Homo sapiens: one gene and its partners. The protein of the gene in region 1 purifies or fractionates together with the protein of each later gene. This does not show direct contact. Each region holds a gene or a part of one and is shown on either strand. Other genes may lie near its edges.

What was found.
Region 2: the proteins of SYNCRIP (region 1) and DDX21 purify together in Homo sapiens (affinity purification with mass spectrometry; 3 studies listed by BioGRID and IntAct, with this or other methods). This does not show direct contact.
Region 3: the proteins of SYNCRIP (region 1) and SNRNP70 purify together in Homo sapiens (affinity purification with mass spectrometry; 4 studies listed by BioGRID and IntAct, with this or other methods). This does not show direct contact.
Region 4: the proteins of SYNCRIP (region 1) and FAM120A purify together in Homo sapiens (co-immunoprecipitation; 4 studies listed by BioGRID and IntAct, with this or other methods). This does not show direct contact.

Annotation. Positions count from the first base shown.
Region 1 is NC_000006.12:85,632,864-85,639,897, reverse strand, and holds part of SYNCRIP (heterogeneous nuclear ribonucleoprotein Q), read left to right. Parts: intron 1-2,541; coding exon 2,542-2,655; intron 2,656-2,754; coding exon 2,755-2,931; intron 2,932-7,034. UniProt on the Homo sapiens protein: Heterogenous nuclear ribonucleoprotein (hnRNP) implicated in mRNA processing mechanisms. Component of the CRD-mediated complex that promotes MYC mRNA stability.
Region 2 is NC_000010.11:68,973,170-68,980,169, forward strand, and holds part of DDX21 (nucleolar RNA helicase 2), read left to right. Parts: intron 1-375; coding exon 376-495; intron 496-1,500; coding exon 1,501-1,574; intron 1,575-4,359; coding exon 4,360-4,519; intron 4,520-5,672; coding exon 5,673-5,807; intron 5,808-7,000.
Region 3 is NC_000019.10:49,095,451-49,102,484, forward strand, and holds part of SNRNP70 (U1 small nuclear ribonucleoprotein 70 kDa), read left to right. Parts: intron 1-2,976; coding exon 2,977-3,041; intron 3,042-3,191; coding exon 3,192-3,254; intron 3,255-3,383; exon of another isoform or gene 3,384-3,396; coding exon of another isoform or gene 3,397-3,513; intron 3,514-5,939; coding exon 5,940-6,021; intron 6,022-6,708; exon of another isoform or gene 6,709-6,723; intron 6,724-7,034. UniProt on the Homo sapiens protein: Component of the spliceosomal U1 snRNP, which is essential for recognition of the pre-mRNA 5' splice-site and the subsequent assembly of the spliceosome. SNRNP70 binds to the loop I region of U1-snRNA.
Region 4 is NC_000009.12:93,510,681-93,517,714, forward strand, and holds part of FAM120A (constitutive coactivator of PPAR-gamma-like protein 1), read left to right. Parts: intron 1-4,986; coding exon 4,987-5,087; intron 5,088-5,302; coding exon 5,303-5,589; intron 5,590-7,034. UniProt on the Homo sapiens protein: Component of the oxidative stress-induced survival signaling. May regulate the activation of SRC family protein kinases. May act as a scaffolding protein enabling SRC family protein kinases to phosphorylate and activate PI3-kinase.

The DNA of each region.
Region 1 (7,034 bases):
GTACATTTGGCAACTGGCTTTTTTTTTTAGGAGTCTCAAACCCCAATGAATTTAGAATGTTAACCCTGCTGCCCTCCACTTCCATCAGTATGGATTATTAGACTATTTCTCAAAGCAGCTTTGACAATAAGATTGTTTAGTGTGGGTATGTAGATGAGAAACTGAGGCTAGGAGGAGGAGGCTTTTTTTTTGGTTTAAAATCATGGTGAATGGCTTCAAATTCAGCTTGGTTTTGATATTTATATTGGTGAGTTTTCTAATTTATAGACAATGTGGTGATTGTATTACTTTTTAACCTGGTGTGCTTTGTAGTGTGCCAGTGCTCTTGAGCCAAGCGTATGGTTTAAGAAAATCAGTTAAGGGTATAGGCCTTGAGCATTGTTGTAGTGGTGTGGAAACAGGGAAAGCCTAGAATATGGAAAAGGTTGGTATATGGAGTTAGCTGTTTAAGACAACCATGAATTGGAGGCTTTCACAGATCTAGCTGTGAGTGAATTGAGTTTGATCTGTAAATCTAGTTTTTCCATAAAAGTGGAGTATAGTTGTCTCCATTGTAATTCAGTTGTAATCAAGTTTGCATTGGTGAGCTAGAACTAAAGTTTTTAAACTTTTAGTTTGTGACTTTTAGCTTTCAGTTTTTTTTGCAAGGGGGTGGCTTAATTTTTTGTTTGTTTGTTTGTTTGTTTTTGGGAGACAGAGTCTTACTCTGTCACCCAGGCTGGAGTGCAGTGGCGTGATCTTGGCTCACTGCAACCTCCACCTCGCGGGTTCGAGCAATTCTCCTGCCTCAGCCTCCCGAGTAGCTGGGACTACCGGTGGGTGCCACCAGGCCCAGCTGATTTTTGTATTTTTAGCAGAGGTGAGGTTTCACCATGTTGACCGGGATGGTCTCAATCTCTTGACCTCGTGACCCACCCACCTTGGCCTCCCAAAGTCCTGAGATTACAGGTGTGAGCCACCATGCCTGGCTGCTTACAGTTTCAATGAGAGCTAAGTTGTGGTAAAAAGGCATAGAGACATTTTTAGAGGAAGTTTGACAGAGGGAATAAGTTTTTCCTTTTTGTTTTTATGGATTGACAAAAAGTGTTATTTGGGTCTTAACTATTAAGGTTAAAAAATCCGTTTATAGCATAGGGATTACATGTGAGAAAATGGAAAGATGAGCTATTACTCATTTAGTTTATGTTATAGATGTGAGCAAGTTTATGAATGTTTTTATTAATTACAGTATTTTTCATAAACAGTTAGTGTCCTTTGAGTAGAAAATGTTAAAAATCTGTCCAGTAATTTTCAGAGACTGAGGTGACCCTAGATTATGCATTTTGATAAATTTTGTCAGATAGCTAGGATTAGTCTGTTTTTATTTCAGAATGTCCTAGCTAATAAAATTGGTTTTGTTTAGAAAACCACTTTTGTGCTTTGTGGTTGAGACAGTGGAGAAGGGGAATAATTCTTGACTTTTTCCTTCAGATAATGGAGGAGTGTACCTTTTTTTTTTTTTTTTTTTTTTTTTTTTTGAGATGGGGTCTTGCTCTGTCATCCAGGCTGGAGTGCAGTGGCGCGATCTCCGCTCACTGCAACCTCCGCCCCTCCAGGTTTAAGCGTTTAAGCAGTTCTCTGCCTCAGCCTCCTGAGTAGCTGGCATTACAGGCGCGTGCCACCACGCCTGGCTAATTTTTTGTATTTTTAGTAGAGACAGGGTTTCACCATCTTGGCCAGGCTGGTCTTGAGCTCCTGATGTCCTGATCCACCCGCCTTGGCCTCCCAAAGTGCTGGGATTACAGGTGTGAGCCACTGCACCCAGCCTATACTTCTTTCTATACTTTGCCTAGAATAAGGAATAAACACCTAATGCTCTGAGTAAATATGAGTTGTGTAAATTTTAACAGTTACTTTTTGGGAGTTAAAATGTAGAGGTTATGTAACGTTGCAGTTTCATAAAGTTTTTAAAAGTCGTTTTGGCTGTTACTTTTTTCTGAAGGACCCATGCTATCCCATGAAATATGGCACGTAAATGTCAAATAATAATAGGAGATTTTTTTTCCCTGTAGCTCCCAAGTTTCTAGACTTGGTATGGGAAGTGTAATTTCTTCTGAGGTTGGCACAATGCCCAGAATGGCAGTATGTACCTAGGAGTGGGGTTTATAGGGAATTTATTGGGTGAGAGATCCAGATTTGAAAGATGCTCAACCAAATTAGGTACAATCATTTTTTAAGATGGTATTAACATAGTAATACATCCTGTCTTGAAAGTTGCTGATGGATTGGTCTTAACTTTTTGTTGTCCATTAAGCACACTATTCAGTAATTAAGTGGAGACTAGAAAGTAATTTGAACAGGACCCTGGACTTCTGATAATAATTTAGGAGTATAACAAGTACACATTTAAGGGGAAATTTTAAAACAGACATCACAAACCTGTTTTTATAAGGGAACATGCCAAGATAATTGGAAAGATTTGAGCAAGATGGATGTTAACTGCTAAATATATGGGTGTGGTCTAGTGAATTAAATGTATTAATGACGTTTGAACTTTTCAAGGCACTCTTGGAAAGAACAGGCTACACACTTGATGTGACCACTGGACAGAGGAAGTATGGAGGACCACCTCCAGATTCCGTTTATTCAGGTCAGCAGCCTTCTGTTGGCACTGAGGTAAAGCAACTAAAAACTTGTACCTTTTGTAGTAAAAGCACAGGTATCTGGTTTCCTAAAGCAATTCTCCATGGTTTTTACTTAATATTTAATTTACAGATATTTGTGGGAAAGATCCCAAGAGATCTATTTGAGGATGAACTTGTTCCATTATTTGAGAAAGCTGGACCTATATGGGATCTTCGTCTAATGATGGATCCACTCACTGGTCTCAATAGAGGTTATGCGTTTGTCACTTTTTGTACAAAAGAAGCAGCTCAGGAGGCTGTTAAACTGGTAAGTTGTCCTTTTTTCCCCTTCAGTTTTCACGTTCACTGTCTTTAATATCAAGTTTTTTTCTTAGTGTGCCTAAGAGTTTACCAAACATTTTTTGAAGTACTGATTTAGGCAGGTTTTTTTTTTCCCACATCACTGTGCAAGCATTGTAGTGTTATTCTTTGCATGTATAGTTGATAGGATTCAGCATCTAAAAGGCGGCATGGTAGAATTCCTAGCAATTGGTTCTTATAAACATCTGGCTTAGTGACGTTTTTGTGTGTTTGTTTAAATTTATAGGAATGTGAAAAGATTAAGAAAAGTAACTGTGGTAAGAGCTCTCATACTTCCTGGCCATACCTGAGCCATCTCTTTTTCTTAAATAATTCACAAAAGACATTGTGATACATTTCTAGTTGATGAAACAAAAGATTTTATGGTGAGTGGCAATGTTTGATTTAAAAATACCAGATGTTAGGTAAGGACCTGGTAATCTTTCCAACTTTTTTAAAAAGGAAATTTTTCTTTTTTCTTTTCTTTTTTTTTTGAGACCAAGTTTCTCTCTCTTGCCCAGGCTGAAGTGGCATGATTTCGGCTCACTGCAACCTCCACCCCTCAGGTTCAAGTGATTCTCCTGCCTCAGCCTCCCGAGTAGCTAGGATTATAGGCGCCTGCCACCACGCTCAGGCTAATTTTTATATTTTTAGTAGAGATGGGGTTTCGCCATGTTGGCCAGGCTGGTCTCGAACTCCTGACCTCCGGTGATCCACTCGCTTCGGCCTCCCAAAGTCCTGGGATTTTAGACGTGAGCCACCACGCCTGGCTAGAAAGAAATTTTAATATTTTAAATTATAGTTTATGTAAGTCCTTTAAACTAGTTTTATTAAGTTCTGTGACAGAAGTGGTTTCTGCATTTTATAGTTGAAGAGTTGGGGGCTAATTTAAACCCATAGAATGTATCAAGCAACACGACTGGGGAGAACTTTTGTACAAGATAGCTCACTATGCCATGTTTGTTAAATTTGCTTTATCTGGCTTACGTATCCTGTGGGTAATTCCAGACAAACTTAAAATCTTCAGACTCATTTTTTTTTCCCTCCCTCCTGAGTTTTACCCCTTCCTTTACCATGAGGTTTATCACTTTAAGCAAGCCTTAAAGAGAAAAATAAAACTCATAAGTCTTCCTTTTCTTTTTTTTTTTTTTTTTTTTTTTGGGAGATAGAATCTCACTCTGTCACCTAGACAGCAGGAGTGCCATGGTGCGATCTTGGCTCACTGCAACCTCCGCCTCCCAGGTTCAAGCGATTCTCCTGCCTCAGCCTCTCCGGTAGCTGGGATTACAGGCATTTATCACCACACCTGGCTAAATTTTGTATTTTTAGTAGAGACAGGGTTTCACCATGTTGGCCAGGCTGGTCATGAACTCTTGACCTCAGAAGATATGCCTGCCTCAGCCCCGCAAAGTGCTGGGATTGCAGACGTGTGCCACTGCACCCGGCCAAGTCTTCCTTTTCTATGTTGTGTGAATATTCCCCACTGGTTTGCATAATTGAGTATGATGGAAGTTAAACAGTACAAAATTATGTTACTTGAAAGAATATAAGCCTTTACAAAGAGAATTTGAGAATTTAGATATTTTCAAATCATGTCTGATTTTTCTCTTCATAAAAGAGTGCTTTGTGTTTTAGAGGGAATTCAGATTTACTGGTAACCTTTGAGTTGTCAAAATTTTAGTTTCAGCAGTTCAATTTGAGGGGAGGGGCATTTTAGAGCTCTAGAAAGAGGTACCTTAGAAATCCTTTAGTTTGTTTTTATGATTTGTTTTTTGAGACAAAGTCTCTGTCACCCACGCTGGAGTGTGTGGGCATGATCTTGGCTCACTGTAATCTCTGCCTCCTGGGCTCAGGCAATTCTCCTGCCTCAGCCACCCGAGTAGCTGGGATAATAGGCGCGTACCACCACACCTGACTAATTTTTGTATATTTGGTAGAGATGGGGTTATGTTGGCCAGGCCGGTCTTGAACTCCAGACCTCAAGTAATCTGCCCGCCTTGGCCTCCCAAAGTGCTGGGATGACAGGCATGAGCCACTGTGCCTGGCAGGTTGGTCTTGAACTCATGGTCTCAAGCAGTCCTCCTACCTCGGCTTCCCAAAGTGCAAGGATTACTGGCATGAGCCACCTTGCCTGTCCCAAAATCCTTTAATCTCCTATAAAAGAGTAGAATATTTTTGCCAAGTAGCAATAAAGTAGCAGTAAGTGAAAATGCAGAATGATCCAGTAAGCAATGAGGTATCATAACTACAGAAAGCTAATACAGTGGGCTCTCTCTACTGTGGGTCCTGCATTCACAGTTTCAGCTAGCTGAGGATTGAAGATACTCCCAAAAAACCCAATAAAAAAAAAAAACAACACACCAGTGTATGAGAGAATGTTCGTAGGTTATGTGCAAACACTATGCTATTTAAGAGAGTTGAGCATTCATGGATTTTGGTATGGGTTCCTGGAATCAGTCCCCCGTATGTGCTGAGGGACCACTGCAGAATTTAGCTAGTGGTGTCATCCATTTTTTAACATTATGAAAAAGAATCATTAAACTGACATCGTAGGTTACCTAATTCTTGCCGTCAAAATGTACCAATTATGGTAGGTGACCACTATAACTTATTTATAGATGTTTTCCAGAAACTTTACAGTAAAGATACATCATTAGAGGAAGATGGTTTATAATCCATTAGTAACAGTGATTTCGAGTGCCAGTAGACACTAGGAAATGTTTCCATTTGTACAATTGCCTTGTTTAATAAATACGTTAAATTATAAAATTGCATTGCTGTAGGTTGCTTAGAATATAGTCTTATTAATATAGTTTTTAAATATAATGGAGAAACTTCTATAGATAAGCATTCTTTTTGATTGGCGTAGGAATTAACCCTTGTCCTAAAACTTTCTACATTTCTTTCTGGGTTTCTCTGTTGTGATTTGAATCCTTTTCTGGGGGCATAATTATTTTGTACTATCTAATTAATAGGAGACTTTGCATTTTGTTGTCTTTTAAAAGATACTTTTGGCAGGGTGTGGTTGCTCACACCTGTAGTCCCAGCACTTTGGTAGGCTGAGGTGCAAGGATTGATTGAAACCAGCCTGGGAAACATAGACCCCATCTGTACCAAAAAGTAACAGATTAGCCAGGCAGCGTGCACCTGTGGTCCCAGGAGGTCAAGGCTGCAATGACCTGTGATCATGCCACTGCACTCCAGCCTGGGCAACAGAGACCCTGTCTCAAAAAACCAAAAAGGGGGAAAAAAAAAATTTCCAATGGTAGGTATTGGTATACAGCCAGTAGGATATATTGGTCATACCATCATTTGCTTTTTTTGACTTTTTAGTAAGTTTTTTTGAAACGGAGTCTCCCTCTGTTGCCCAGGCTGGGGTGCAGTGGTGTGATCTCAACTCACTGCAACCTCTGCCTTCTGGGTTCAAGTGATTCTTCTGTTTCAGCCCCCTGAGTAGCTGGGATTACAGGTGCACACCACCATGCCCTACTGATTTTTGTATTTTTAGTAGAGATGGGGTTTCACCCTGTTGGCCAGGCTGGTCTCAAACTCCTGACCCCAGTCTCGGCCTCGGCTTCCCAAAGTGCTGGGAGTACAGGTGTGAGCCACCACACCCAGCCTACTTTTAAGTAAATTGTTTATTTTATTTATTTATTTATTTATTTATTTATTTGTTTTTGAGATGGAGTCTCACTCTGTTGCCCAGGCTGGAGTGCAGTGGTGCAATCTCGGCTCACTGCAAGCTCTGCCTCCCGGGTTCACGCCATTCTCCTGCCTCAGCCTCCTGAGTAGCTGGTACTACAGGCACCCACCACCACACCCAGCTAATTTTTTTTGTATTTTTTTAGTAGAGACAGGGTTTCACCGTGTTAGCCAGGATGGTCTCGATCTCTTGACCTTGTGATTCACCCGCCTTGGCTTCCCAAAGTGCTGGGATTACAGGTGTGAGCCACCGCGCCCGGCCTTAAGTAAACGGTTTTAATTATTATTACTGTTTTCGGAGACAGGTTGTCACTCTGTTGCCCTTGCTGGAGTGCAGTGTCATGATCAATGCTCACTAACCTTGAACTC
Region 2 (7,000 bases), on another chromosome or scaffold:
GAGTGACAGAGTGAGACTCTGTCTCAAAAGAAAAAAAAAAGACTAGATATATTGAGTTAAAATACATTAAGCTTCTTAAAGAAATCTTTTCAGTCTGTCTACTGGAAGACTGAAAATTGGAATTACATATATGCCTCTAATGGACAAGCACTATTTAGACAATGCTCTTTGTAAATTTGCCTGCAGGACAGGGACCATTGTTCTAGAAGCTTTAAAAATTGCCAGAGGTCTTTAAATTGAAGTGCTAAGGGACCTTCTCCCTCATGTCCCCAGGTTTATAACCACAATTGCTAGTGTTCACTGACCTGCATAGGCTACTCAGGTGTTTGTCTCTCTTTTTTGGTTTAGTGTTACTCATGTATTTTACTTCAATAGGATGTAGAGTCCTACATTCATCGATCCGGGCGGACAGGCAGAGCTGGAAGGACGGGGGTGTGCATCTGCTTTTATCAGCACAAGGAAGAATATCAGTTAGTACAAGTGGAGCAAAAAGCGGTAAAACTATTCTTACCTTTCATTAAGCAAATGTTGAGTTCTAAAGTCAGTCTTTGGTTTCTTCAATTTTTATCCACTTTAAAATATTTTTATTTCTAGTGTGTGGCAATGACTGAAAGCTTATTGTTAGGTACATATGTTGTCCTGTGATAAAAGGCCCATTCTGAAGTAACTTTGCATTTGAAAACAGTGATTTTGTTTTCATATGTTTGAAAGGAAGTTTTCAGACAATGATAAATATGAACCAGAGATAATTAAGATTGAGGGGCTGTAGGAATTGCTTGAAAATCAAATGAATGAGGGTATGTCAAAAGGATAAAGGGGAGAAGAGACTAATTTTTCCTCCAGGAGAATTGGAATAGTGTATGTAGATTCTTGCCCCTTCAGGAGCTTCACTCGTCTCCTTCCTCTTGAGTGGACTGCACTTAGGGACTTGCTTTCAAAGAATAGAGTAAGGTGGGGAGTGAGGACTTTACCGAGGAGAGATGAACAAACACTACCTGGGCCAGTTGATCGTGGGTCACATCATTAGTGATAGGCACATAGCCATGTGCCCCTGATAAGAGGTGGTAAGGCGAGCATTCACTTCGGGTATTCCTCCCCCAAATATGTAACCCTGAGCATGAGGAAAACACAAGACAACCTCAAACTGAGGGACATTCTACAAAACTGTTGACCAGCACTCCTTAAAACTGTCAAAGTCATGAAAAACAAGGAAAGAAGGAAAGACAGACATGGAATAAAGTCTGGGGTTTGATTAATAGTTTAGCCATGTTGGTTTCTTAGTTGAAACAAATATACATTAACAGTGTAAGATGTTAATAATAGCAGAAACCTGGAGCTCTCTGTACTGTCTTTGTAGCTTTTCTGTAAGTCTAAAATTAAAAGTTCATTTTTTAATGTAATACATACATTTGGCCTATATTAAAAAATTAGGGGACTGCTTATCTTATTGGAAACAATTGATGGCCACTGTACATTAAACTGTGGTTCATTTTCCTGTAGGGAATTAAGTTCAAACGAATAGGTGTTCCTTCTGCAACAGAAATAATAAAAGCTTCCAGCAAAGATGCCATCAGGTATGTTCCCTACCACTGCTATGGTCTGTTTTAGTGTTGGTTCAAATACTGCATGTCTTTGTACAGTAATAAGATTTGACTTAAAAAAATTTTTTTTTTAAAATTTTTGAGACAGGGTCTCACTATGTTGCCCAGGCTGGTCTCAACTCCTGGTCTCAAGCAGTCCTCCCAGCTCAGCCTCCCAAAGTGCTAAGATTACAGGTGTGAGCCAGCATGCACAGCCTATTCTTTTTAACTGATAACCTGTTTATCAAAAAAAAACCAGACCGTGCTGAAGTAGAATTTCACAAAGTGGATACCCTCGTTTCTACTCATTCCTGTCCTATCCTGTTTACCAGAGGAAACCACTATTAAAATAGTTTGCTTTGTCTAGGATATTTTAAGGGATAATATCTTAGGTATAGTATAGGTGCTTCTCACCCACTGGCTGATTAGACCACAGATTACATTCCAAATCTACATTAATCCAGTTCCTTCCCTGGTAGGATGAAAGTTGATTGCTTCGTTAATAGTAAATGTCTAGATGGTGAGGATTAGGTTAATTAACAGTTTGTCAAATGGAGGTGCTGCTGGCATTGGAGGCAAGAGAATTATTTTTTATGGGATTGTCCTGCAAATGGAAGGATATTTAGCTGCTTAGGATCCGTGGCTGATTCCCCTGTGCCACATACTCAGGGTAAGTAGGGTTGGCATTATAAAAACCAGAAACCATTTTCCAGATGCCTCCTGATGGTGACCTATGTTCTCTGTTAAAGAACCACTGAGTTTGGGCATCATTTTTATAGTAGTTTTCACAATTACTGTAAATGCTTATTTAAAAAACAGACACAGGGAGTCCATGATCAAAGGAAATCCTGGATGTCAATCAGCATATTAATAGTTCAGGAAAGTTTTGTTAATGAAAGAGTTTTGGGCCAGGCATGGTGGCTCATGCCTGTAATCCCAGCACTTTGGGAGGCTGGGGTAGGCGGATTGCCTGGGCAACACGGTGAAACTCCATCTCTATAAAAAATACAAAAATTAGGCCGGGTGCGGTGGCTCACACCTGTAATCCCAGCACTTTGGGAGGCCAAGGCGGGTGGATTACCTGAGGTCAGGAGTTCAAGACCAGCTGGCTAACATGGAAAAAACCCATTTCTACTAAAAATACAAAAAAATAGCCAGGCGTGGTTGCGCACGCCTATAATCCCAGGTACTTGGGAGGCTGAGGCAGGAGAATCACTTGAACCCGAGAGGTGGAGGTTGCAGTGGGCCGAGATCACACCATTGCACCCCAGCTAGGACAACAAGAGCAAAACTCTGTCTCAAAAAAAAAAAAAAAATACAAAAATACAAAAATTAGATGTGGTAGCAAGTGCCTGTAGTCCCAGCTACTCTGGAGGCTGAGATGGGAGGATTGCATGAGCCCAGGAGGTTGAGGCTGCAGTGAGCTGTGGTTGTGCTAATGTACTCCACCCTGGGTGGCAGAGTGAGACTATCTCAAAAAAAAGAAAGAGGGAAGGAAGGAAGAAAGAAGACAGGGAAGGGAGGAAAGGAAGGATGAGTGTATTTTTTTTTTTTTTGAGACAGAGTCTTGCTCTGTTGCCCAGGCTGGAGTGGAGTGGTGCAATCTCATCTCACTGCAAGCTCTGCCTCCCTGGTTCACGCCATTCTCCTGCCTCAGCCTTCCGAGTAGCTGGGACTACAGGCACCTGCCACCACGCCCAGCTAATTTTTTGTATTTTTAGTAGAGACGGGGTTTCACCGTGTTAGCCAGGATGGTCTCAATCTCCTGACCTCATGATCCGCCCGCCTTGGCCTCCCAAAGTGCTGGGATTATAGGCGTGAGCCACCACACCCAGCCTGGAAGAGTGTATTTTAACTGCATTTTTCAAATTTATTTTAGCATGGCATGTTTTTTTAAGTGTCCTACAGACAGGGTTCCCTTGGGTGCCAGTTAAGGAGAGTTGGGGTTAGATGGCCAAGAAGGGGAATGGGACAAAGATGCTGGTGGTATACAACAAACAGCCTCCAGCGTGCCAGCCCTGACACGGCTGCATGTCACTTTCTCCCCTTTTTACTGGATGATCTTTTTCAACTTTGAATGGGACATTTATTATTGCCAAGATAATAGTGACCCCCTTAAGAATGTACAAATAGTCCCATAAAGGTCCTTATCATTTTTTAAACTGACTTTGGAGGTCTTTTTCTTATTTCTTTTATTTTCTTTTTTTTTTAAAGAGACGGAGTTTCTTAAAATGATTGTGTGTGGCACAGTCATAGCTCACTGCAATCCTCCCACCTCAGCCTCCCAAGTAGCTGGGACTACAGGCATGTGCCACCACACCCAGCTTTTTTTTTTAAACTTCAGAATGGAAATAGGTTTTTTCTGATCCTAAAAGTAACACATGCTTCTTGTATAAAAACTCTTGACATAATTCATCATCACATCTAATGGTAGTATGACATTTTATTATGTCTGTTTTGTGGCTTATATAAGCAGCCCAAATGATGCACATTTTAAAATTGTTTGTACTTTTTGTGTATTATAAGTAACACCGTGGTGAACTTCTTGTTTTATTATTTCCTTAGGATAAAATGGTGGGGTAGGTGATAAATTAGAATTACATACAGTCAAAGGAATGGATTTATTACTATAGAAATATGATTATTATATACTGCATCAAAAATAAATATGTTACACATGTGAAAGATTTGGAAAGTTACTCATTTATCTTGAGATGTCTTAGAAATGAAATGTGTCCACTTCTAGTATCCTTTCTCCTAACACACTCTCAAACAACAGGCTTTTGGATTCCGTGCCTCCCACTGCCATTAGTCACTTCAAACAATCAGCTGAGAAGCTGATAGAGGAGAAGGGAGCTGTGGAAGCTCTGGCAGCAGCACTGGCCCATATTTCAGGTGCCACGTCCGTAGACCAGCGCTCCTTGATCAACTCAAATGTGGTAAGGTTCTGCAGCACATTCCTGACACTTCATAATTTGGGGTATGAGCAGGATATGAAAGGGTTTCATTTAAGCTTCCCAGTTGTTTTCATTTTCTCATGAAGTTAGTAAAGTATTAATTGTATTTTACAATTTCTGGCCAGACACAGTGGCTCATGCCTGTAATCCCAGCCCTTTGGGAGGCACAGGCAGGAGGATGGCTTGAGCCTACAAGTTTGAGATCAGCCTGGGCAACCTAGTGATACTCTGTCTCTACAAAAAAATAAAAAAAAAAAAAATTAGCTGGGCGTGGTGACATGCTGTGGTCCCAGCTACCTGGGAGGCTGGGATGGGAGGAGGGAGGATTACCTGAGCTCAGGAGGTTGAGGCTGCAGAGATCCATGATGGTGCCACTGCACTCCAGCCTGGGTGACAGAGTGAGACTCTGTCTCAGAAAAGAAAAGAACCAATAATTCCCATGTTTAAACACACACACACATACATGCAAATCCATAGAGGCAGAAAATATGAGTGGTCCTGACTGGCTGTGTGGAGGGAGGAATGGCAGTGGCTAGTAATGGATGCAGGATTCTTTTGGGTGGATTATGCCATGTTCTGAAATTTTAGATAGTGCTGAATGGTTGCAGATCTTACAAATATACTAAAACAAACAAAAAAAACACTGGATTATATACTTTCAAATGGTGAATTTTGTGGTATGTGATTTTTAATTGTTTTAATCCTAAAGTAGCCCAAACATATATATGCGCATAAATGCATATAATACATTTAGCCAGCATACCTAGAAACTTTAGAAGGTGTATGCTTTTCTTTTCCTGTAAATTCAAATTTTTATTGAGATAATTGTAGATTTACATGTAGCTGTAAGAAATAATACAGAGAGATCCTTTGTATACTCTGCTCAGCTTCCCTAAATGGCAATATTTTGGAAAACTATAATACCACAACCAAGATATTGACATTGGTACAATCAACCAGTCTTACTCAGAGTTCCCCAAGTAAAACGAGGGACTGTTCGTACTAATTGTTTGTGTGAGATGTATGTTTTTAGGAATAACTTTTCAAGAAATATTTTAGAATCACAAAAGCAGGTATTTATCAATTAGGTTTATTTTCAGCACTTTAATTTTATTCTCCTTTCTTGTGTTGTAAGGGTTTTGTGACCATGATCTTGCAGTGCTCAATTGAAATGCCAAATATTAGTTATGCTTGGAAAGAACTTAAAGAGCAGCTGGGCGAGGAGATTGATTCCAAAGTGAAGGGAATGGTTTTTCTCAAAGGAAAGCTGGTAAGGCTGGGGTCTCTGTTGTAACCTTGATGGGGCTTTATGTGGGCAGGAAAACAGTGTGGTGTGGGTTCTTCCTGTTCTGTGGGGATGCTGCATCTCTTCACTCTCTCATCTTCCCTGGGTAATCTCATCCGTGATCCTCAGATGCCACTCTGCCACTGACAACTACTGTACCTCTATCTCCAGCCTGAACCGTTCTCACAATGCCAGACTTGATCCAGCTGCTTCCCTGACATCTCTACCTAAATAGCTTATTTAAAGTAACTTTTTCAGAATCTTTTTTTTTCTTAGCAATGCTATTCTAGCACTGGACTTATTCAGAATCTTGAATTCAAATTAAAAATGAAAAAATTTGCCTCCCAAACCTGGTGTTCTTTCTTCTGAGGCCTTCTCTTTGTTTATGCCATAGACTATCACAAGGATTCTCAAACATTTTGGTTTCACAATCCCTTTAGCAAATGTTAGGGACCCCCAAAAGCTTTTGTTTACATGGGTTATATCTATTGATACTTACTGTATTAGAAATTAAAACTGGAACTCTAAAACACAATATCATGTTCCATTAGTCATCAGAGCAATGATTTTATCACGTCATATATGTCTAGGAAACTCCACTGTACCCTTGAGGGAATGAGTGTGGAAAGGGCAACATTATTATGAAAATAATTTTGACTTGGCGAAGCCCCTAAAAGATCTCAGGTTTCCAGGTTTCCATTGGCCTAGTGAACTAATCGGATTTATCTTCAACTTATTGCATGTCTAGCCATGTTGTTATCTCCTTAAGCAACTCCACAAAACTTGTGGGATAAAGTCTCAACCCTTTCATAGGAGGATAAGATCCTTCATGTCCTGGCCTCTGCTAACCTTACAGCTTAATTTCTACCTCATTGCTACCAACACCATTTACTCCAGCAGTGCCCAGTACACCATGCTTTATCTCATCCTCAGTGCATGCTGAACCTACTATTTATAGTAATCTTTCGGCTGGGCCCCGTGGCTCATGCCTGTAATCTCAGCACTTTGGGAGGCTGAGGTGGACGGATCACCTGAGGTCGGGAGTTTGAGACCAGCCTGACCAACATGGAGAAAACCTGTCTGTACTAAAAATACAAAATTAGCCGAGGATAATGGCGCATGCCTGTAATCCCAGCTACTCAGGAGGCTGAGGCAGGAGAATCACTTGAACCCGGGTG
Region 3 (7,034 bases), on another chromosome or scaffold:
CTATTCTCTGTCGTCATCTGATGTGATCATAGGATCTCCTTATTTACCTCTTTCATTAGCATATGAACCCCATGAGGGTAGACACCTTTTTTTTTTTTTTTTTGGAGACAGTCTCACTCTGTTGCACAGGATAGACTGTAGTGGCACGATCTCGGTTTACTGCAACCTTCATCGCCTCCCTGGTTCAAGCGATTCTCTTGTCTTAGTCTCCTGAGTAGCTGGACCACACCCAGCTAATTTTTTGTGTATTTTTAGTAGGGATGAGGTTTCGCTGTGTTGATCAGGCTGGTCTTCTTGAACTCTTGGTCACAAGTGATCCGCCTGCCTTGGCCTCCCAAAGTGCTGGCATTACAGCTGTGAGCCACTGCGCCCAGCACCTTTTTTTGTCTTGTTTACTGCGAAATCCCCAACAACTATAGCATTTCCAGGCACATAGTAGATGCTTAAGAATTACTTACTTACAAGAGCACAAACATCGGCGAATAAAAAGAATTACCTATTGAATGAATGAGAGTTAGCTGGTGCAAAAAAAAAAAAAAAAAAAGCCAGTGCAGATTGAGAGACCTGGCCATAGAAAATTACAACGCTCAGGGATAAGGTATGGCAAGGAACGTTTTTTGTTTTTTGTTTTTTTTTTCGCTTTATTGCCGAGGCTGGAGTTCAGTGGTATGATCTCGGCTCACTGCAATCTCCACCTCCCAGATTCAAGCAATTCTCCTGCGTCAGCCTCCCGAGTAGCTGGGACTATAGGCGCACACCACCATGCCCTGGTAATTTTGTATTTTTAGTAGAGACGGGGTTTCGCCATGTTTGCCAGGCTGGTCTCAAACACCTGACCTCAGGTGATCCGTCCGCCTTAGCCTCCCAAATTGCTGGGATTACAGGTGTGAGCCACTGTGCCCAGCCTGGCAAGGAACTTGAGGAGTGGGTGGAGAGAACGCTGAGATGGAGTTGTTTTCAGACGTTTCCATTTGTCCCAGATAGCGATTCCCTTAAATTGTGGCTTAGGCTTCTGTTTTCTAAAATATTCTTAGGCCAGGTGCGGTGGCTCACGCCTGTAATGCCAGCACTTTGGGAGGCCGAGGCAGGCAGATCACCTGAGGTCAGGAGTTCGAAACCAGCCTGGCCAACATAGTGAAACCCCGTCTCTACTAAAAATACAAAAGATTAGCTGGGTGTGGTGGTGTGTGTTTGTAATCCCAGCTACTTGGGAGGCTGAGGCAGGAGAATCGCTTGAACCCGGGAGGCGGAGGTTGCAGTAAGCCGAGATCTCGCCATCCATTGCACTGACCTTGGGCAACAAGAGTGACACTCCATCTCAAAAAAAGTACATTCCTTAAAGTCATCTTGACCTTAGTTTATACTTGTAGTTAAATTCTCTCATAAGAAACAAATCTGGCGGGACGCGGTGGTTCATGCCTGTAATCCCAGCACTTTGGGAGGCCGAGGAGGGCGGATCACCTGAGGTCAGGAGTTCGAGACCAGCCTGGCCAACATGGCGAAACCCCATCTCTACTAACAATACAAAAATTAGCTGGATGTGGTGGTGCACGCCTGTAATCCCAGCTGCTTGAGAAGCTGAGGCAGGAGAATTGCTTGAACCTCGGAGGCAGAGGTTGCAGTGAGACGAGATTGCGCCATTGCACTTTAAGCCTGGGCAACAGAGCAAGACTCTGTTTAAAAAAAAAAAAAATCTGAGACTTTATTTCTCTAGCTTCTGGCAACACCCACACTGTCTTCCTGAAAAGGTAGCACCCGAGGGTTCGGGGAAGGAGCCTGGTAGTTCAAGTGCCCGGGGTGAGAGGTGAAGTCTGCCTTGGCCCTTCGCCACTTTAACACCTCCCTTTTTCTGTGTCTCGAGTTTGTTCTGTTTTACTTCCATTTGCAAAATAGTAATAAATAAATATCAGTGTCCAGCACTGTGTCTGGGCCATAGTACGTGTTCAGTAAATTATATGTCTAATGTTCCATTATTGGAACGCTAAGCATGTGGGAGTTATTTATATCCTACTGCTCGGGTCATCACCAGGGTCTGATTTTTCACACGTGTCTGCAATTCAAAAAATTGCAACCTCTGGCATAAATGGGTTAATGTTATTCCTTTTCTCATGCTCTCCCAGAATGTGACAGGGCTTCCGAGGGAAACACTATACCATGGAAGAACCGGCAGAGTGTCCTTAAGGCCCCGGCAGGAGTCAGGGTCATTATGTGCTGGAGCCACCATATTTGGTGAAAAGGACTTATTCCCAGGCCTGACCCAGCAGGATCACCTATGAAATTGGTTTCTTAGGAGATTCCTGGCTCTTTTCTTTGGAGATTGTTATTCCTTAGTAGCCAGGTAGAACAGTTTGCCTCACAGTAGTGAGGCTGGAGTGAGAATCTGATCTGACGCTAGTCAGTTCCTGGGTTCCTTTTTAGAGACACAGGGCACAGACAGGAAAGCAGAGCTTACTTAGTGTTTGCTTTCCTGGCTCTCATTCTTAGCCTTGGGGCAGCTTGGTCTCAGGTTTTCCTGTGGGCTGTAGTTGCAGTCTGTGTCCAGTAGGTGGCAGTGTGGCCCTGCCTACAGGAGGGAGCTCAGAACCTGGGGGCATCAGCTGCATCTCCAGGGAGGCCCAGTTGGGCTATTACTGTTTGGATCACCTTGCATCTGGGAGCGATAGGGCCCTTAGGGTTTATGTAGGTCTGAAATGGCAGTTGGGCCTGCCCACATCCTGTCAGCTTGAAGTCAGCCTTACCTCCTCTCCTCAGCAGCCTGGATTATCTCTCAGCCACTCTGATAAAGCCCACTGTGCCTCAGAGAAACAGGTTCAGAGAGGGGCGTCCCTGAGGTTGCCAGGTCACCACCCATGTTCCTCCAGTTAGGGGCCTCTCCCAATGCCACCGTTTTCTTCTTGGCCTCTGCCCATCGTATTTGTTTTGCTACCTGAGACCATGGACACCTTCAACTTATAAAATTCCTTTCTTCCTGCACAGGGGACCCTCACAATGATCCCAATGCTCAGGGGGATGCCTTCAAGACTCTCTTCGTGGCGAGAGTGGTAAGTCCCCAGCTCCTAGCTCCTGGAACCCCACGCTGCTGAGAGCCTGGGTCTGGCACAAAGGTCAAATAGGCTAGGTACAGGGGAATGTTCCAGGGGCTGTGGGACAGCTCTGTTCTCCCATTTAACGTCATATCCATCTCCTTGTAGAATTATGACACAACAGAATCCAAGCTCCGGAGAGAGTTTGAGGTGTACGGACCTATCAAAAGAGTAAGTGGAGTGGGTCAGGGTGTTTGAATTGGGGGTGCATGGAGGAGGGGCTGTATCCTGAGAGGGAGGGAGAGAGGTCCCAGCCCTGAGCATGGCTCACACCATTTCAGGGCCTGGATTTATGCATCCTGACTGTATCTCCATGCAGCAGACCTTGGGCAGCAGAAGTAAAATGAGAAGTAATGACTGCTGGTGGTTGGTTGAGAGCAGGGGTTGGCAAACTACAGACTTAAAGTTTTCCTGCTGCTCAGCCAGGCAGGTCTGTTTGTTTACACATTGTCTTTGGCTGCTACTGTTGTAAGGCAGGGTTGGATTGTTGCAACAGTATACGGCCGTCCAAGCTGGAAATATCTACTCTCTGGGTCTTGGCAGAATACCTATGCTGAGTCCCGTTTTAGAGGAAGGCTTTGTTTTACCAATCTTCTTTTAAGTCACTGAAGTGCTCTGTGTCTGATTTCCTTTATCTAACATGGGAGACGCATGCCTTCACTGGGCAGTAGTGAGGGCTTGAGGCCATCCTACACACAAACTGATGTTAGCCATGTCTCTTCTCCCTGCTCTGTTTCTGATACGTCTTTTAAAAATATTTATACATGTCAGGCCGGGTGCAATGGCTCACACCTGTAATCTCAGCTCTTAAGGAGGCAGAGGCGGGAGGATAGCTTAAACCCAGGAGTTCGAGACCTGCCTGGGCAATATAGCAAGACCCCGTTCTCCACACAAAGGAAAAAAAAAGTATTGTTGGGCCAGGCACGGTGGCTCACGCCTGTAATCCCAGCACTTTGGGAGGCCGAGGTGGGCGGATAACCTGAGGTCAGGAGTTCGAGACCAGTCTGACCAACATGGTGAAACCTGGTCTGTACAAAAAAAAAAAAAATACAAAAATTAGCTGGGCATGATAGCGGGCGCCCGTAATCCCAGCTACTGAGGAGGCTGAGGCAGGAGAATTGCTTGAACCCAGGAGGCGGAGGTTGCAGTGAGCCGAGATCACACCACTGTACTCCAGCCTGGGCAACAGAGTGGGACTCCATCTTAAAAAAAAAAAAAAGTATTGTAGGCTGGGCGTGGTAGCTCACGCCTGTAATCCCACATGTTGGGAGGGCGAGGCAGGCAGATCACCTGAGGTCAGGAGGCAAGACCAGCCTGGCCAACATGGCGAAACCCCGTCTCTACAAAAATACAAAAGATTAGCCGAGTGTGGTGTCTCGTGCCTGTGTGTGTGTGTGTATGTGCATGTGTATATATGTGTACACACACACACACACGTTGTTCTGCCTTGCACAGCCCAGTGACAACCTTGGCCCCACCCTTGTCCCTCTGATCCATTCAAGTCAGGAATCTTGGTTGTGTTTTGGAGGCTGTGGGGTCCCAGGTTCATCCATGATACAGGTTGGTCGCCAACTGGTAGTGATGTGAATGGCGAACTAGCCATCCTTTAGGGACCAGCTCAAATGCTGTTACCTCCCAGAAATCTTCCCTGGTTCATTCTGGCCACCTCTGTCTCAACAGCCCTGCCTTGCCCGTTGTTCTCCCTGACATGGTCCCCAAGGGGTCTTTCTGACATCCAGAGCTGACCCCATCTCTGCTGACAGCATCCCATGGGTCCCTAGCATGTTAGGACAGGTCCAGCTGCCACCATCTGGCCTTCCAGGGCTCTTCCCCAAGCTGTGTGGCCTCATGGACCTCCACCCCACCCCATCTCCTCCCTTCTCTTGCTGCCATCCTCGGGATGGGACGCATCCCTCATCGTGCCACGTTCTCTCAAGCCTCCCTGGCTGTGCACGTGTCCTTTCTTTTTCCCTTAGAACTTCCCTGTCCTTGGCCAGGCACAGTGGCTCACGCCCGTAATCCCAGCACTTTGGGAGGCCGAGAAGGGCAGATCATGAGGTCAGGATTTCAAGACCAGCCTGGCCAACATGGTGAAACCCCATCTCTACTAAAGATACAAAAAATTACCCAGGTGTGGTGGCGCACGCCTGTAATCCCAGCTACTTGGGAGGCTGAGGCAGGAGAATCGCTTGAACCCGGGAGGTGCAGGTTGCAGTGAGCTGAGATTGAGCCATTGCACTCTAGCCTGGGCAACAGAGCAAGACTCTGTCTCCAAAAAAAAAAAAAAAAAAAAGAATTCCCGTCCCATTGGCATTCACAACTCCCTCCTGTTTCCCTAATTCCATTTGTGTCCTCCTGACTCCACGTAGACCACCCACATTGGCCCTTCCTTGCTCAACACCCTTCCCAGCTCCTCAGCGACCACACTTCTCGGCCTGGCATTGGGGCGCTTGATGACCCCGGGCCTGCCCACCTTTGTGGCTTCATCTCCTGGGACTCTCTGTCATCAGTACATGAGCCAGCCCTGCCGAAGCGCATCCCCAGCCTCCTGCCCTCCTGCCCCCGGGCCCTTGGACCTCTGGAGTTACTGCTATTCCACCTGACAGGCTGACACCTCACTGTCTTCCTTCATCTCTCTTCTTTCTTTAGGTCTTAGCTTAAGTGTCATTTTCTCCAGGAAGCCGCCTCTGTGTCCTCTGCTCCTGCCATTAGAACATAAGTCACTCAGGGCTCTTGAAGGACAGAGAGGGTCTGAGGCCTCATCCGGCCCAGGGCCTGGTGTGCAGGCTGTTGTGGGGTTGGTGGGGCGGAGCCGCCCTGTGGCAGGACTCACCCCTGTCCCCATGTGCCCCACAGATACACATGGTCTACAGTAAGCGGTCAGGAAAGCCCCGTGGCTATGCCTTCATCGAGTACGAACACGAGCGAGACATGCACTGTGAGTACCTCCCGCCGAGCCCTGCCCTCTGACCTGCTCTCACTTCTCTGCTGCCCCAGCCCCTCCCAGTCTGTCCCCTCCCCCACCCTGCCACACCTGACATTAGCGATGTCTCTTCTCCTCCTCCCTCTGTTTCTGATGTATCTTTTTTTTTTTTATATACGTGTTTTTTAAAAAACAAAAACCAAATCCCCCACAACGTGTGTGTGTGTGTGAACCTGGGGAGGTAAGTGTCACACGTTGAACCTCAGGGGCAAAGAGGGAACTGGGTGGGGGGCTGGGGCCAGCTGGAGGTGGGGGGAGGGGTCGGATTTTGGGGGAACCTCCCCCATTCCCCCCACTGAAGTTGGGGGTGGCCAGGTTGCAATGAGGACTGGCCTTTGAACCTGCCCTCTCTTCCCCCCCCAGTAGAACTGGGGCTGGGCCACCCGACCCTCCGCTTCCCCAACCCTGGCCCCCCACCCTGTTCCTCAGCGGGCAGTGGGGTGATAGGCATGTTGAGCGCCTGCCCCTACAGTTCCAAAGCCCCCTTTGAGGCTGCCGCGGCGTCCACATGGGCAGGGATGGGTGGGGGAGGGTGGGCAGGGCTGCGGCGTGTCCAGGGGCCGCCGTATTAATTGACTGTTCTTATTGTCACTGCAGCCACCACGCAGCTGGCTTGCAGCTGATGCTTACGCTCCCCTTACAACACCTCAGTGTATGGTTGGTATAAGGGTTTGTATCATGGGTAAGATCACTCAGCACCGCACACCAGCCCAGCTTAGCCAGGCAGCTCAGGAGCAGCGAGGCGCCCCTCCTCCCACCCCAGTCGCCCCCGTAGCCTCCCCGCACCCATGGCCCTTTCCTTGTTTGGGTGCCCTTTGTCCCTCCTGCCCCGATCCGTATGCTCTCTGAGAATCTTGCTGATCCCAGGAGGGGAAGGATGAACCTGGTGGGAAAGGCGGCGGCCTCTCCGCTTGGGTTCCACCCAGCCTCTGATGACCCGGCTTCGTGATGTCAGCGGCGAGGTGGCA
Region 4 (7,034 bases), on another chromosome or scaffold:
TTGCCTGGCCTGGTCTGAACTGCCTCAGCCCCCAGTGTCGGGATTGTAGTCATGAGCCACCGTAACCAGCCTTGATGAGATGTAATGTTCCTATTCTGCCTTCTTGAACTTTGCTCAGTCAGTACAAGTATTCTGTTCAAACTGATTAATTAAACCCAGGAACTGAATACATTTAGATAAAACTTGCTACTTGAGACTGGGGCACTGGGTAGATTCGAATGATGCCGTATCTCGTGATGTCTACCCTCTCACTATCCACATTCAGGGATGGAAAGGATTTGGGGAGTGAGGAATGTTTATAGAAGTTCAGCCCAGCTCCCTGCTGTAGAATGTTCTTGTATGAGCAGTCCAGCAGTCAGTAAAGCAACCCTTTTCATTGTTGAACTGCTCTCATTCTTAGAAAGTTCTTGTTTCTGTTGACTTGAAATTTGCTTCCGTGGTTTAATTTTTCCCGCTGTTCCGAATTCTTTCACGTGCCACGCAGGATGTGCCTGTTCACTGAGTTCATAATCTTACTTCTCATGGGCCTTGTACTTAGCCTTCTTCAAGCTGATCATGCCTCAGGTTTTGCCTCCTTCTGTCACCAGGCCTCCTCTTCTGGGCGCCGGCCTCTGGCTCTTCCCTTGGGGTCTGGCCAACACCGCAGGCTTTGGGCCAGCATCAGCTGCTCCCAGGCTCTTAGCTCTTGGGAGTTGCTCCTCCATCCTTTGCCTCCCTGGGCACTGACATTGCACCTGGTCTCAGTCCAGGCTTGGCCAGCCTGACCGGCTCTGTGGGGCCTCCTCTCCCTATAGGATGGCCAGACGCCGCGCCCTCCCACTGTGCTCCAAGGCCCCACCCTGCCTCTCTGGACACTGGATCTGTAGTGTAACGGGAACAGGTCACATGACAGTTTCCTTTCTATAACTTTTTATCTTCTGTAGACTATTGAGATTTAGTAAACATGTCTGTTTGCACATGCTTAAAATGGTTGGAATGTTTTGCCTTGTCTGTGTTTGCAAGCGATGAAAATTAAAGGTGGTAGGGATTATATTGATTTGTTTAATCTTGGACTCGACATCTTCAAAGCTATATTTTTTGGGTGATACTTGAAAATCATACAATGTCTGCCTGTTTATTTATTTATTTATGAGATGGAGTCTCATTCTGTCACCCAGGCCAGAGTGCAGTGGCACGATCTCTGCTGATTACAGCCTCTGCCTCCAGGGTTCAAGCGATTTTCAGCCTCTGCCTCCCGAGTAGCTGGGGTTATAGGCGCCTGCCACCATGCCTGGCTAATTTTTTTATTTTTAGTAGAGACGGGCTTTCGCCATGTTGGTCAGGCTGATCTTGAACTCCTGACCTCAAGTGATTCGCCTGCCTTGGCCTCCCAAAGTGGTGGGATTACAGGCATGAGCCACTGAACCAGGCCAGTTTTTTGTTTTGTTTTGTTTTTTGTTTTTTAAGACTTAACTTTGTTACTCTTTGTTTTGTTTAACATTTCAGGATCATATGCCAAGTAATAGAGGAACATTTGTTAGGTTGGGCTAGGAATGGGGACTGGGGTAAGGCCGACTGTAGTTCTAAGAAGAGGTTCCAGTTTAACACCATTTCTTTAAAGAATTTTACCGTATTTTAATTCAGAGCAAAAGCCACACAGCTGCATATAGGCGTAAGTGAGTCCTTTGAGGAAGTAGGTGACTGAGCTGTAACAAGTCAAGATCATACAGCCGAGGGATTGCAGTGCATGTCTCTTTTCATTCTGAAAGAACTTCTCACTATTTAAAAACTATTTTTAAAGTTACGAAATATTTTGAAATATAGTAAACTTTTTTGGCCTTTTTTTCTTCTTTTGCTTCTTGTCTTCAGTCTGCATATTTTTTTTTTTACCGAAAGCCCACCTCTCTAGTAAGTGTGAAAGGAAGAGAGTGAGAAACTGGTGGTGTGACCTCTACTCTGGAGCCCCGTGTCCCTTCTGAGAAAGATGCCTCTTGTTGTAGAGAGGACACACAGTGGTTCTGCTCAGCTGCACTTGGGCATGGAGAACAAGAACCGATATAGACGAAGGCCTGAATCCGCAGAGGGAGACCCTGGGTTAGGAGGCACTTCTGCAGCCTTCAGAAAATGCAGACAAATTAATTCACTTATTGGACTGCTTTAATAGAATAGTGGCTTGCTCTGTGGATTCACAGAGGATTATTTGAGGTCAATGATTGGAATGTGATTTTAGAAAATATTCTTTCCTTGGAATTCTTTGGTTTTATGCTGTAATGTAGTTTGTTTGTTTGCTTTAAAGGAAAGTTTGTGCTTTCAAGGAAGGTTTTAGGATGAAATGGCCAAAAATCAAAAAACAAAAATGATCATCTTCACTTGAATGCGGGTGCTACATGAGTCTAGCCTTAGATTTGTATTATTCCAAAGTTAGGTAAGTGAGGTCAGCCACAAGATATTATACACTAGACATTTTACATTGATTTAAATTATATGGTTGGAGCTTGAATAGATTTTATAATATTCTTTGGACCAAACCTGCCTATCAGAATCACCTGTGAACAGTTTTTTAAAATAATAGCGACTTTGATCGCACACGTGGAGGTGCAGATCTAGCCAACATACTGTTTTAGGAACAGCTCCTTGTATTGTCTGTGCCATGCGTGTGTGTGCGCCATGCATGCACGTGTGGGGTGTGTTTGTGTGCACTTCTGTGTGTATCTACGCCTGTGTGTGAGTGACCACTTGATCATGCACACACATCCCTTAGAGGCACGGACTTGTGGACTTATCGGTCAGTTAGGAATGTGTTGTGTGCACGTGTGTCTATGTGCGTGTTGCATGCAAGTGTGAGGTGTCTGTGACTACACACATGCCAGTCTCATTATTCCCAGCTTCTCATACTGCAGTTGTTTTTGTTTGGTACAAAGGTGGAAGCTCTGCCAAGGTTTTTTCTTGATGCGAGCCAGGATCGAAGGGCTATGGTGTTTAAAGCTTGCGAGCTGAAGGCCCTTGGAAGGCAGGAACCTCAGATAAATTGTAGTCTGTAAGATTCCTGGTCGTTCTCTGGGGGGAGTCAACAATGATCTGTGCTTCACTCCCAGCGTCTGTTGACCATGCTTGGCTCTCAGGAGGCCGGACCAAGGACAGCGTTTGCACTCCTGGTCTCACCACGCCCAGTGTTGGCTTAGGGAACCTCTTGTGAATGCAGCCATGGACATTTGCTTTTCAGAGAACGAGAGTGAAGGTTTGGGGAATGTTTCTGTCCTTACCTATATTGGCAGTAGGCAGTGTGAGAGGTGGTGGTTCTTGGGTTGTGTTCCCCTTGCCTGGTGTTTTCCTCTGATTTCATACTGCTATAAAGAACTGCCTGAGACTGGATAATTTATGAAGGAAAGAGGTTTAATTGACTCACAGTTCAGCATGGCTGGGGAGGCCTCAGGAAACTTAGCATCATGGCAGAAGTTGAAGGGGAAGCAAGGCACCTTCTTAACAAGGCAGCGGTAAGAAGTGTCGAGTGAAGGGGGAAGAGCCCCTTATACAACCATCAGATCTTGTGAGAACTCATTCACTATCATTAGAAGAACATGGGAGAAACTGCCCCTATGATCCAATTACCTCCACCTAGTCTCTCTGCCTAGACACGTGGGGATTATGGGGATTATAATTCAAGATGAGATTTGGGTGGGGATGTGCAGCCTAACCATATCAACTGGTGTTCAGATGAAGAGGTTGTAGAAGCATATCTACTGCTTAAAGAGGGAAATTGGAGTCAGCAAGCTCTGGGCTTGGTTTTCTTCCACATTTAAAACAAACCCAAGGAAGAGATGGTGCAGCCGTGCAAGCCCCTGGTGGATCTGTTGTGTCTCACACAGGTTTTCTATTTTCTCTGTGTCTTCAGCAGTGTGCATCTTACTTAAACCGCCTCAGGGCTCCTTTCATCCCCAGGCCCAGTCCTCAGCTTGACACATCATAGGCCCTCAGCACCTAAGTGTTCTGAGAGGGAGTGCAGCTCCTAGAGGTCCATGTCCCATGTCCTCCTGCTTCCTGCATATCATTTGGGCCCCAGTCGGTCCTTGTTACTGCGGGTCTTGTGCTGTCTCTGGAACAGCCCTTTATGGGCACCATCTACTCACTCATTCACTTCTGTTGGCTGACGTGGCCCCTGAGCTCTCTTCCTGTGCTTAGTTAGGCCGCGCGAGGCCAGAGGTTGAGTGGGGAGGCTTCCAGCCCCTGCCTTCTGTCCCAGCTTCAGGCTGGCCTGGTTCCATGTCCTGCTGTCCTGCTTCAGCCATTCCTCTATGTGGCTTTCAGTCCTCTCACAGATTTCTTCATTTTTGCAAGGTAGCGTGGGAATGATGACTAGCACATGGCAGCACACATCAGGCAGGTTTATGAAATTATGTTTTAAGAGAACACAGAATCACAAATTACTCATCCTGTATATGTGTTAAAATGTGTAACCTAATTGCTGAACAATGAAAAGCAATTCCTTTTATATTTAAAAACTCACTAGTTAGCTGAGAACCTAATGGTAGTTGCAATGTACTTTAAATAGAAAAGTCCTCTTGCTTGACAAAGGTAAAGGAAACTGTTCGGTCCGACTTTGTTCCTTTCATGCCTGCCAGGGCTTCTGGTTTCACGGAGACCTCAGGCTAGGAGCAGCCCTGAGCAGGGAGACTGAGTTACAGAGAATCCCCACCAAGTTGCAGGCAGAGGGACAGCCGAGGCCCTCAGGAAGTACACGAGAGCAGAACCACTATGGCAAGTTCACTGAGAAATCTGGAAAGTTAGAATCCCAGCCCGAGTCCATCAAATGGAGCATCATAAAATTAAGTTTTCCTTACTGTGAAATGGCAATTTGTAATGATTTCTGAGAAGTGGGACCCATGGTGGTGTCGATGTCTGAGCCAGGTGAGGGTGAGATCCCTGGCGCCATGGGCTGGCCCCCAGGATGCCCTGGAAAACGCATTCTGTTCACAGCTGTGTGATTCTTTTCTTTCTGTGTTGGTGAAGCAGCCAGACCCGGTCCGTTTGGAATGCCTGGGATGGTGCCGCCGCATGTTCCTCCTCAGATGCTCAACATTCCGCAGACCTCTCTGCAAGCAAAGCCCGTGGTAAGGCCTTCCCTGCGTTGGGTCGGGTGGCGGGTCTCAGACAGGGTGCGTGCATTGAATTTCAACGAATGCTAAAATAAGTTCCTAACCTCTTGAATTGATACGTGAAATAGATGCCAGTGTTTGTTGAAATAAAAATGAGCCAGGAAACGTCAGCCTGGGCCTGAGTCGGGTCCTGCTGGCCACGTGTGCGTGACCTGTGCCCTTCGCTTCAGGCCCCACAGGTGCCCAGCCCAGGGGGCGCCCCGGGCCAGGGTCCATACCCGTACAGCCTCTCTGAGCCAGCACCTCTCACTTTGGACACGAGCGGGAAGAATCTGACGGAGCAGAACAGCTACAGCAACATTCCTCACGAAGGGAAGCACACGCCGCTGTATGAGCGGTCCTCGCCCATCAACCCGGCCCAGAGCGGCAGCCCCAACCACGTGGATTCCGCCTACTTCCCTGGCTCTTCTACATCGTCATCTTCCGACAACGACGAGGGCAGCGGAGGGGCGACAAAGTGAGTGGTGCGTGGGTCGCTGGGTGCTTCCTGGCGGGTAGTGACCTGGGGAAGCTGCCTTCTGGCCTGCCAGCCCAGCTGGTGTTTTGCTCAGAGATGTAGTTTATTGCAGGTGGGTGATGGTCAGTCTGTACTCAGATGGGGGCTCCTTGGACAGAGAGGAGAGAGGAAGAGTAGGTATGTTCTTGAAGTTTCCATGATTTAAAATCTGCACTATCCCAGCCCCATGGCCTGGAGCCACAGGAAACTTTCTGGGGAGGAATTTGACAAGAACTGGTTTGTGTGATGACCAAAACATGGGGGCATTTGTCCGGTGTGGTGCCACTCACACCCGTCACAGCAACCCCCTGCCGACCCCCGAAACATTAATCTTCTGGCTCCTGGATCAAGGGAGCTCTGAATTTCCTCTCCTTCTCCTAAACTCAGCAGGTTACAGGACACTTTGGAAATAACACTGTTTGCCCAAGCAAAACCCTAGAAAGCTGCCTAGACCCAGGCTGGAATTGTTTCCTTAGAGGAGTATTTTAAACACTGTGTGTCCCTGAATAAATGGGTTCACAAATACATAGTTGGTTAAAATTTGATCGAGGAAATCTTTAATTTGCACTCCTCCCTTTCTTTAAATTGTCTTATGTTTAAAACAAAAAAAACAGGGAAAGAATATTTCTTTTCTTTAAGTCAGTGTCTCCTTTTCCTTGGTGTGAACTCTACTTTACAGCGCAGATAACCAGGGCTGGTTGATGTTACATCTGTTTCTGATGTAGGAAATGTAAGAGACATAGGTGTCAGCTTCCATGCCAGTTCTTACCTTGTGTGTCACCTGAAGCAGGTGATCTTTTCCTCTCTGTCCTCTGTCCATCTGTGAAATGGGAATAAATGTCTGTTGACCCAGGGCAGAGCTTACTGAAGGACTCTCTGCCATCCAGGGATGCATACCCTGTTTATAGCAGAGAAGTATAACATTAATAAATGTTGATTTGTTGTATGTGCAGAGAAGTATAAAATTAATAAATGTTTATTTGCTGTATATGCAATGCCAAGACTCTAAAATGAAGTAAAGAGTTGCAATTGAATATTCAAATTTTTAAATTAACCTCTAGCAAGATAATATATTGAGTACCCATTGAATCAGAATCTCTGGTTGGGGCCCCCAAATTTGCATTTTAAATAAGCACCTCAGTCAGTCTTTAGCACACTGAAGTTTGAGAACAACTGCTTGATGGTCTTGGAAGCCCTTATGTGCCAGATTTCTAAGGCATGTGCATTTTGTTGTAAAACGTGACTCATGTCAGCAAGGTCCAAGTGTCTGTACAATACAGTTTTTGTCTTAGTAAGAAATGTTCTTTCTAAACTGTGAAACATAGGTAAGAAGTAAGACAAAAAGCAAAAGAAGTAAGCTTTATGACCCCAACAAGAGTTCCATGCTAGTGATGGAGATGTGGAAA